2 separate regions of the Homo sapiens genome follow, and region 1 is linked to region 2. Evidence: fine-mapped expression QTL. A gene starts in region 2. The other region holds a variant in brackets. All regions are shown on one strand. Distances are from middle to middle. Region 1 overlaps NDRG3 (NDRG family member 3). Region 2 holds the start of NDRG3 (NDRG family member 3).

Region 1 (5,378 bases), 50 kb before region 2:
ATATATTACAATGTAATAATAGAAAGTGCACAATAAATGTAATGTGCTTGAATCATCCCAAAACCATCCCAAATACATGGAAAAATTGTCTTCCACAAAACCGATCACTGGTGCCAGAAAGGTTAAGGACCACTGATATACTGTATTCTTACAATAAAGTAAGCTAAAGAAAAGAAAATGTTAAGAAAATCGTAAGGCAGAGAAAATATATTTACTATTCATTAAGTGGAAGTGGATCATCATAAAGGTCTTCATCCTTGTTATCTTGTTGAGTAGGCTGAGGACGAGGAGGAACAGGAGGGGTTGGTCTTGCCATCTCAAGGGTGGCAAAGAAGGAAGAGGTGGAGGAGGTGAAAGGGGAGGCAGGGGAGGCAGGCACACTTGATGTAACTTTACAGAAATACATGGTAATTTGTCTGACTTTTTACACTCTCATTTTTCTAAAAATGTTTCTATACAGTACCAATCCTTCTTCCACTGTTTACTTTAGTTAAAGTGTGCGTATCACAGAATAGTTCCTGACATAAAAGAAGTGAAAAACAGTCTTGAATAACTGGAACCCTTCTGCCAGGCTGTCTAATGTCAATTTGTTTTCTGGCACTGCTTCTTCTACATATTCCTCATTGCCTGGCACTGGTTCAGAAGCATTCATCTCCATCAAGTTGTCTTCTGCTAATTACTCTGGTGTGGTGTCTACTAGCTCTTAAATTTCTCCAAAATCCATACCTTGAAACCCTTCATCCTATGACCCACCTTTTTTTGGTCATATTCATAATCTCTGTAATGATCCTTCATTGGCTCTGTTGTAAATCCTGTGAAGTCATATACAACATCTCTACACAGTTTTCTCCAGCAGAAATTTATTGTTTTCAGCTTCATGGCTTTCAAGGCCTTTTATTTATTTATTTATTTATTTATTTTTTGAGACAGGGTCTCATTCTGTCACCCAGGCTGGAGTACAGTAGCGTGATCTCAACTCACTGCATTCTCCACCTCTCAGGCTCAAGCAATTCTCCCACCTCAGCCTCTCAAGTAGCTGGGACCATAGATGCATGCCACCATGCTCGGCTAATTTTTGTACTGTTTGTAGCATCAAGGTTTCACCATATTGCCCAGTGTTGCAGGAAGTCAGGGACCCCAAACAGAGGGACCTGCTGAAGCCGTGATAGAAGAACATAAATTGTGAAGATTTCATGGACATTTGTTAGTTCTCCAAATTAATACTTTTACAATTTCTTATGCCAGTCTTTACTGCAATCTCTGAACATAAATTGTGAAGATTTCATGGACATTTATCACTTCCCCAATCAATACTCATAATTTCCTATGCCTGTCCTTACTTTAATCTCTTAATGCTGTCATCTTCGTAAGCTGAGGATGTATGTCGCCTCAGGACCCTGTGATGATTGCGTTAACTGCACAAATTGTTCGTAGAGCATGTGTGTTTGAACAATATGAAATCTGGGCACCTTGAAAAAAGAACTGGATAACAGTGATGTTCAAGGGAACAAGGGAGATAACCATTAGGTCTGACTGCCTGGGAGCTGGGCAGGACAGAGCCATATTTCTCTTATTGCCAAAAACAGGTAAGAGCAATATCGCTGAATTCTTTCCCCAGTAAGGAATATTAATAATTAACAGCCCTGGGAAAAGAACGCATTCCTGGGGGGACGGAGGGGGATCTCTAAAATGGCCGCTGTGGGAGTGTCTGCCTTATGCAGTTGTAGATAGGGATGAAACACGTCCTGGTCTCCTGCAGCGCCCCCAGGCTTGCTAGGATTAGGAAATTCCAGCCTGGCAAATTCTAGTCAGACCAGTTCTCTGCTCTTGAACCCTGTTAAGATGTTTATCAATGACAATGCATGCACAGCGGGACATGGAACTTCATCAACAATTCTAGTTTCGCCCTGGCCTTGTGACCTTGCCCTACCCTTGTGACCTTGCCCTATCCATTTGCCTTGTGATATTTTATTGCCCTTGAAGCATGTGATCTCTGTGACCCACACCCTATTCGTATACTCCCTCCCCTTTGAAAATCGCTAATAAAAACTTGCTGGTTTTACGGCTCAGGGGGCATCATGGAACCTGCCGACATGTGATGTCTCCCCCCGGACACCCAGCTTTAAAATTTATCTCTTTTGTACTCTTTCCCTTTATTTCTCAGACCAGCCAACACTTAGGGAAAATAGAAAAGAACCTACACTGAAATATTGGGGGATTCCCCCGATAGCCCAGGCTGGCCTTCAACTTTGTTTTTTTTTGAGATGGAGTTTCACTCTTGTTGCCCAGGCTGGAATGCAATGGTGTGATCTCGGCTCACTGCAACCTCTGCCTCCCCAGTTCAAGTGATTCTCCTGCCTCAGCCTCCCAAGTAGCTGGGATTACAGGTGTGCATCCCCACACCTGGCTAATTTTGTATTTTTAATAGAGATGGGGTTTCACCATGTTGGTTGGGCTGGTCTCAAACTCTAACCTCAGGTGATCCACCCACCTTGGCCTCCCAAAGTGCTGGGATTACAGGCGTGAGTCACTGTGCCTGGCTAGCCTTGAACTTCTAAGCTCAAGCAATCTGCTTGCCTTGGCCTCCCAAAGTGCTGGGATTGCAAGTGTGAGCCACCGCGTGTGGCCTCTGGCTTTTTCTTTCTTTTTTTTCTTTTTTTGAGACGGAGTCTTGTTCTGTCACCAGGCTGGAGTGCAGTGGCACAATCTTGGCTCACTGAAATCCCCACCTCCCGGGTTCAAGTGATTCCCCTGCCTCAGCCTCCCAAGTAGCTGGACTACAGACGCGCGCCACCATGCCTAGCTAATTTTTTGTATTTTAGTAGAGATGGGGTTTCACCATGTTGGCCAGGATGGTCTCGATCCCCTGACCTCGTGATCCGCCCACCTCGGCCTTCCAAAGTGCTGGGATTACAGGCGTGAGCCACCACGCCCGGCCGCCTCTGGCCTTTTCTATAACAACAATGGCATCTTCAATGATGTAATCCTTCCGGACTTTTATGATGTTCCATCTATTGGGATTCTCTTCCACAGCATTGACAATCTGTTCCATAAAGTACCATGTATAATGAA[A/C]CTTAAAGGTCCTTATGACCCCCTGATCTAGAGGCAGAATCAGAAATACTGTGTTTGAGGGCAAGTAGAACACTTAGACACCTTCAGTATTTAACTCAATACTGAAGTTCTGGGGTTCTGGGTGGCCAGGGGCATTGTCCATATCAAAAGAACTTTGAAAGGCAGCCTCTCACTGGCAAGGTATTTTGTGACTTCAGAGACAAAGCGTAGATGGAACCAATCCAGAAAAAGTGTTCTCATTATCTAGGCCTTCTTGCTGTACAATCAAAACACTGGCAGCTGGTGTTTTTTGTTTCCCTTCAAAGCTTAGGGGTTTGCAAGTTTAAAGATAGGGCAGTCCTGATCATAAACCTGGCCGCATTTACACAAAACAGAGTTAGCCCATCCCTTCATGCCTTAAATTCTGGTGCTCATTTCTCTTCCTTACTAATATGTCCTTTGTGGCAGGTTTTTTCCCCCCCAAGAATAGGGCACTTTTGTCTGCATTAAAATCTGTTCAGGGCCGGGCGCAGTGGCTCACACCTGTAATCCCAGCACTTTGGGAGGCTGAGGCTGGTGGATCACCTGAGGTCAGGAGTTTGAGACCAGCCTGGCCAGTATGGCGAAACCCCATCTCTACTAAAAAATACAAAAATTAGCCAGGCGTGGTGGCGGGTGCCTATAATCCCAGCTACTTGGGAGGTTGAGGCAGAAGAATCGCTTGCACCCGGGAGGCGGAGGTTGCAGTGGGCCAAGACCGTGCCATCGCACTCCAGCCTGGGCAACAAAAGCAAAACTCTGTCTCAAAAAAAAAAAAAAAAGATTTAATACTGCATCTTTACATTTGTTTACATTTCTCTCAACCATGAATGGTGCCATGTATGATCTATAAGTGTGTGCATAAATTTTAACTTTTTGTAATAGATTTGTGTATATTTTATGTTAGTAAATGATAAAATAGACTAATGTCTACATATAGTTTATACAATCATGACATACCTTTTTCCGAATGTTTCCAATAGTTCTAGGTTACATAATTTGCGAGTTTTTTTCTTTTTTCTTTTTTTTTTTTTTTTTTTTGAGACAGAGTCTTGCTCTGTCACCCAGGCTGGAATGCAGTGGCCCGATCTCAGCTCACTGCAACTTCCACTTCCTGGGTTCAAGTGATTTTCCTGCCTTGGCCTCCTGAGTAGCTGGGACTACAGGCACACGCCACCACACCTGGCTGATTTTTTGTATTTTTAGTAGAGATACCATTTCAACATGTTGGCCAGGCTGGTCTCAAACTCCTGAACTCAGGTGACCTGGCTGCCTTGGCCTCCCAAAGTGCTGGGATTATAGGCATGAGCCATCCTGCCCCGCTGTGGGTTTTTTCATATTGCTACAAATCTCCGGAAGCTTTCTGACTGTGTGTGGTGGCTCATGCCTGTAATCCCAGCACTTTGGGAGGCTGGGGTAGGAGGACTGCTCGAGCCCAGGAGTTTGAGACCAGCCTGGGCAACATGGTGAGACCCTGTCTCTACAAAAAATTTTTAAAAAATAGCCAGGCCTGGTGGTGCATGCCTGTGGTCCCAGTTACTTGGAGGCTGAGGTAGGAAAATCACTTGAGCTACAGTAAGCCATGTTCTTGCCACTGCACTCCAGCCTGGGTGACAGAGCAAGACCCTTTCTTAAAAAAAAAAAAATCCAATTTATGTATTGAAAAAAAAGCCATGTATAAGTGAACCTATACAGTTCAAACCTGTGTTGGTCAAGGGTGTAAACATCACAACCTTCTCTATAATGTCAAAAAAACTGGAAACAGCCCAAATATTCATCAATGGGGAAATTAATAAATGAATTACGATTTATTCATATAATGACATACAGATAAAAATGAACTAGAATTATTAGCATTAATACACACAGAAAATCTTCAAAAAAATGTAAAAGAGCAAGATGCAAAAGGATATATATTAAAAATATACCACTTATGCCAATATTTTAAAAAGCAACACTATAGATTCTGTTTATTTATATATATGTATACATACATATACGTACACATATATATTTAGAGACAGGATCTCATTCTAGTGCCCAGGCTAGAGTGCAGTGATGTGATCATAGCTCACTGCAGCATAGAACTCCTGGGCTCAAGCAATCCTCTCACCTCAGCCTCCCAAGTAGCTAGGACTACAGGCGCATACTGCTACACCTGGCTAATTTTTATTTTTTAGATTTCTTGGAGAGACGGGGTCTCCATATTTGCCCAGGCTGGTCTTGAATTCCTGGCCTCAAGTGATTGTCCCAAATCAGCCACCCAAAGCGCTACTACAGGCATGAGC
Region 2 (5,378 bases):
TGCAAGCTCCAGCTCCCGGGTTCACGCCATTCTCCTGCCTCAGCCTCCCGAGTAGCTGGGACTACAGGCGCCCACCACCACACGCGGCTAATTTTCTGTTATTTTTTAGTACAGACGGGGTTTCCCCGTATTAGCCAGGATGGTCTCCATCTCCCGAACTCGTGATCCACCCACCTCGGCCTCCCAAAGTGCTGGGATTACAGGCGTGAGCCGCAGCGCCCGGTCCATAAACAGGCTTTTTGATGCAAGACTCTTATCTGCAAGTTTTCAAAAACAACAGGGTGGATGGAGGCCTTTGAGTGGTAAATGGTGATGACAAGTTTAATCTGAAGGAAGAGACAAGCAAAGAGAAACTGAAGGGCAGGAAGGAGGAACAGAAGGGCACCAGAAGAACACCACGCTTTGAGTAATGAAAAGGGGGGGTGGAAATTAACTGAGTCCTTACCAAGGATCTACTGTGAGCCAGGCATCTGGAGCTGCAAAGATGGACCATGCCCTCAAGGGGCTAGAAGTCCGCAGGGTAAGACTGAGGCTAAGACCCTGTTTTGTGAACGTGTAATTCTAATTGGGAAAATCAAGCAGGGAAGGCTTCACAGAGAAGGTGGTGATTTAGTGGAGCCTTTGAAATGTGGAGGAGGATTTGCTAAGGGAGAAAAACGACAGTTTGAGCTAGTTATTTTGGGGGAGAAACATTCACATATTTTTATAGCTGTTCATTTGGAACTTTAAATCATGGGAGGCTTCTTAAATTCAGCACCACTCTATCAATGTTCTCTTTCTCTTCTTGCTTTATCTTAAATACTGAAATGTTCAAGCCCAACCTTGGGGCAAAGGCAGAAAGCCTCGGACAGAAAGCCCCGGAATGAGGTGAGTGCTAGCCAAATCTGCTCTGTCACCTCCAAGTCCAGCCCGCCCAGCTAGCCCAGTCAGCCCAGTCCTGCTCTCTTGGCAGGAAAGGAAGGCTAATAATATCCCCTGAGGGCCAGGGTAAGGGGGGGGGGGGGCGCGGCGGGGGTGATCTGGATGCCAGCAGGCAAGGATCACTCTTGTTCTGTCAGTAAGCCACCAAAGGAAAGCTTCCCTGCTTCCTAATCCACGGGGCTCCTAGTCTACCTGTGATAGGGAGGCCAGCTCTGCAGGAAGAAAAAAAGGGCTTCATGACAAGGAAGGGGGAAGCATTTGGATTGGGAAGTGCAGAGGTGGTTATGCGAGGTTATCTTAATAAAATGCTTAGCAAGATCCCTGGCACACAGCGAGCGGTGGAAGAACGTTAGCTCTTATATTAATAACACTATTATTATTACAGTAACACCTCAATTGTACTCCGACAACAAGAAAATCTTTTTTGTGCAGCCTACTTTTACGACGTTCGAGAGCAACTTCAGAGATGACAAGTGATTTCAAAATTTTTTCAAAGGTACGAGATCAAATTCCAACCGCACTGGCCTGAGAGCCCGAGACCCTGAGTTGAGAGCTGACCCTGCCACTTGTCAGCTGCGTGACCTTGGGCATGGCACTTCACCTTTCCGTGCCTCAGTTTCCTCGGCTGTTAAGTGGGGCTAAGAAGCCTCTCCCCGGTAGGGTAGTCGTAGGGTCCCGTTAGAGGATGCCCTCTGCTGCTCTGGGGCCGGACGGGTGCAAGGGCTGCTCACGGCCCCTCTTCCAAGCATCTGGGCTCTTGGAGCGGGCGAGGTAGATGGATGAGCAACCCCAAGGCCCACCAAGCTCTGCCGCCTGCAGAGCCAGAGCGAGAGAAGGGTTCGCGCCTGCGGGGGGCGTCCCTGTGACCCAGGGTGTTGAGCCCGGAGGGAGGCTCTCTTGCTACCCACACGCTGTCGCCGGCGGGCTGGGCGCGGGGAGCGGCCGAGGAAAGCCGGGCTGACCTGGGTCCGGCGGGCGGGCGGGGCGGGGCAGAGGGCCCCGGGGGCACGGGGGAGGCAAGCAGCACGGGCCACCAGGGCCTCGCCGTGCCGCGGAGATGATGCGGGGAAGGAGCAGGGCAAAGGAGCGACGCCCCCGAATGCGGCGCCGCGCGCCCCCCGCGGGCCGGGCGGAGGCGCTCACTCACCTGAGGCGCGGGCACCCGCCGTCAGTGCAGCAGCAGCGGCGGCGGCGGCGGCGGCGGCGGCGGCGGCGGCGGCGGCGAGAGGGGCGGGGGAGGTGCTGCGGTCCGCGCAGGCGCGCCGAGGACGCCAGGGCGGCGCATGAGTGCTGTGCCCGTCCACCTCGGGAACTACCGAGAAGATGGTGGCTGAGCCAGGAGAGGCCGGCGGCGCCATCTTTGATGTAGTTTTTCTTGCTGCGGAGTTTCCTCAGAGAAGAATCTCAGATTTTGGAGGCGCTGGGCGGCAGGGCCATTGAGCTCTGCGTCTGGAGCGCTTCCCTCAGTTCCCTGAGTCGCATCCTTATGAAGCCCCTAAGAGCTCTTGCAGGGTATGGCATCCTCCTTTTAAGGTGACCTAGAGCCATACCCAAGGTCACAGGGCGCCTAGCACAGTGCTCGGCACGTGGAAAGAGCTTAGTAAATTTTTGGTGAATGAACATAGTAATTTAAGAACTAGAGTCCAAGACTCAGGGCTCCGAATTACCAGTCCTCCATTGTATCACCCCTATTACAACCGTCAGCCAAATCATCTACTTTCTTGAATGCAACATTAGAGATGGAATTTTTTTTCCCAGAATGATTGCAGATATTAAACTTAATGACCCAACAATTTAACACCAAAATGTACAGGACACACTCTTCCTCTATTTATTATCTATTATTTCTTTACCATTAAGTACCACTGACTAAAAGTTTTTTTGTTTTGTTTTGTTTTGTTTTTTGAGACGGAGTCTCACTCTGTCGCCAGGCTGGAGTGCACTAGCGCGATCTCGGCTCACTGCAACCTCTGCCTCCTGGGTTCAAGCGATTCTCCTGCCTCAGCCTCCCGAGTAGCTGGCACTGTAGGCGTGTGCCACCGGGCCTGGCTAATTTTTCTATTATTAGTAGAGACGGGTTTTCACCGTGTTGGCCAGGATGGTCTCGATCTCTTGACCTCGTCATCTGCCCGCCTCGGCCTCCCAAAGTGCTGGGATTACAGGTGTGTGAGCCACCACGCCCTTTTAACCCGAGCCAGTGTCGCCATCTCGGCTCAGGTTCCCAAGTCCCTCAGCCTCCCAAGTAGCTGGGACTAGAGGCGGGCGCCACCATGCCTGGGTAATTTTTGTATTTTTTTTTTTTTAGTAGAGATGGGGTTTCACCATGTTGGCCAAGCTGGTCTCAAACTCCTGACCTCAAGCAATCCGCCTGCTTCTGCGTCCCAAAGTGCTGGGATTACAGGTGTGAGCCACCACGCCCGGCCACTAAAAGCATATTCTTTTAATTAAGGCAAACTGAACAAATGAATATTACCAAACATCTCAGAGGGCAGCAATAATATTGTTATTCATCAAGCACAATTCTTGAACTGAATTTAGTTGGAAGGAAAACTAACATTAATTGAGCACAGCCATTTATTTTATGGTTTATGTTCGTTAACATTTACTGAATTCAAATTAGTTCTAGTTCACCATCCACTATTTATCCCTATGTCCTTGGTTAGACAATTAAGTCTCTCCACACCTCTCCATGCCCGAATTCCTCATCTATGTCACACACCCAGAAATAGAAGTTACAAGGTTGTGGCAAAGACTGAATGATAATATGCATGTAAAATGCTTAGAGCTCAGTAAGTATTATTTTTCTTTGTTCTATCGTATTTTACTGTTGAAGACACAAAACATACTTCTTGAGTTTGAAGAAATCCTTATAAGCAAAAAATGCAATACAATGTAATAAATAAAAAGGGGGAGGGTATAATCATCTTTAGAGAGATAATCTGTCCCCATTTTACAGATGAGGAAATTGAGGATAAAATGAAAATTCATGGCCGGGCGCAGTGGCTCACGCCTGTAATCCCAGAACTTTGGGAGGCTGAGGCGGGCAGATCATGAGGTCAGGAAATCGAGACCATCCTGGCTAACAAGGTGAAACCCCGTCTCTACTAAAAATACAAAAATTAGCTGGGCGTAGTGGCGGGTGCCTGTAATCCCAGCTACTCGGGAGGCTGAGGCAGGAGAATGGTGTGAACCCGGGAGGCAGAGCTTGCAGTGAGCCGAGATTGCGCTGCTGCACTCCAGCTTGGGCAACAGAGCGAGACTCCGTCTCAAAAAAAAAAAAGAAAAAGGAAAATTCACTCCAACTCTCTCCATTGTACTACTTTGTTTATGAAAGAGTAGGCAATTAAGAGCATTTCTCTGATTCTTGAGATACAGATAGAGATAGATATAGACGAGGGTCTCACCATGTTGCTCAGGCTGGTCTAGAACTCTTGGACTCAAGCAATCCTCCTGCCTAGGCCTCCCAAAGTTCTGGGATTATAGGCATGAGCCACTGTGTCCCGCTCTGCTCTGATTCTTAAATGTTGGATTTCCATGAGACCATCCAAACTTTCCCTTCTTGCTCTACTGTGGACTATATCATTCATTCTCAAGTCATCAAGAACTAGACATCAGCAACTCTCAAATGTTATTTCCAGTCTCGATTTCTCCACCCAGTTCTCCACCTGTGTTATTTGACAGACCAGTTGATTTCTCCATTTGGTATTCCAAATAGAACGAGCTTTCCCATCTCAAATTGCTCCATCATCTACCCACTGTTCAGGCTTCACCTCCTGCAGCATACTGATACCGCTAAACTTTTATATTATTTAATTCTTACAGCATCCCTGTGATATAGGTTCTATAATTCTCTCAACCTTCGAGATAAGAGATTAAATAAATTTTTCAGTCACAGTTAATAAATGGCAGAGTTAGGGGTTTTTTCTTTTTGAGACAGAGTCTTGCTCTGTCATCCAGACTGGAATGCAGTGGCACAATCTCGGCTCACTACAACTTTCACCCCCTCCCGGGTTCCAGCAATTCTCCCACCTCAGCCTCCTGAGTAGTTGGGATTACAGGCACCTGCCATCATGCTTGGCTAATTTTTGTATTTTTGTAGAGATGGGGTTTCACCATGTTGGCCAGGCTGGTCCTGACCTCAGGTGACCCACCCACCTCAGCCTCCCAAAGTGCTGGGATTACAGGCATGAGCCACCATGCCTGGCTAGAGTTAGGTTTTTAACACCTAGGTTACATGCCTATGTTCTAGCCACTGTGGGCAACACGAGCAGTCCCACCCCACTCATCCACTGCCAACACCCAGCACAAGCTGTCATTTCTCTCCTAGACTCCTGCAATAACCTAACTGGTCTCCCACACCCATACCTTGCTATCTTTTCCCCACACCACAACTAGAGTACTCTTTTAAAAATAAAGTTCTGATCTTCTCGCCCTTTCTTGAAGCCTTCTAATGACTT

The links. PIP is the estimated chance that this variant, and not a neighbour inherited with it, causes the effect.
Region 1: its variant is the best candidate, but not a certain one, in a credible set for the expression of NDRG3 in sun-exposed skin (GTEx, PIP 0.51).

What each region holds. Positions count from the first base shown.
Region 1 is chr20:36,693,853-36,699,230 of GRCh38, forward strand. All of the region lies in intron 3 of NDRG3 (NDRG family member 3), which reads right to left. Among named protein-coding and RNA genes, the nearest start is that of NDRG3, 50 kb to the right of the region's middle. RefSeq lists an enhancer at 2,662-3,162. The variant A/C (reference allele first, on the strand shown) is at 3,073.
Region 2 is chr20:36,743,977-36,749,354 of GRCh38, forward strand. NDRG3 (NDRG family member 3) reads right to left here and starts at 2,114. Exons shown (of 16, transcript NM_032013.4): 1 at 2,069-2,114. RefSeq lists enhancers at 1,577-2,543, 2,268-2,367 and silencers at 1,738-1,927, 1,958-2,157, 5,237-5,378.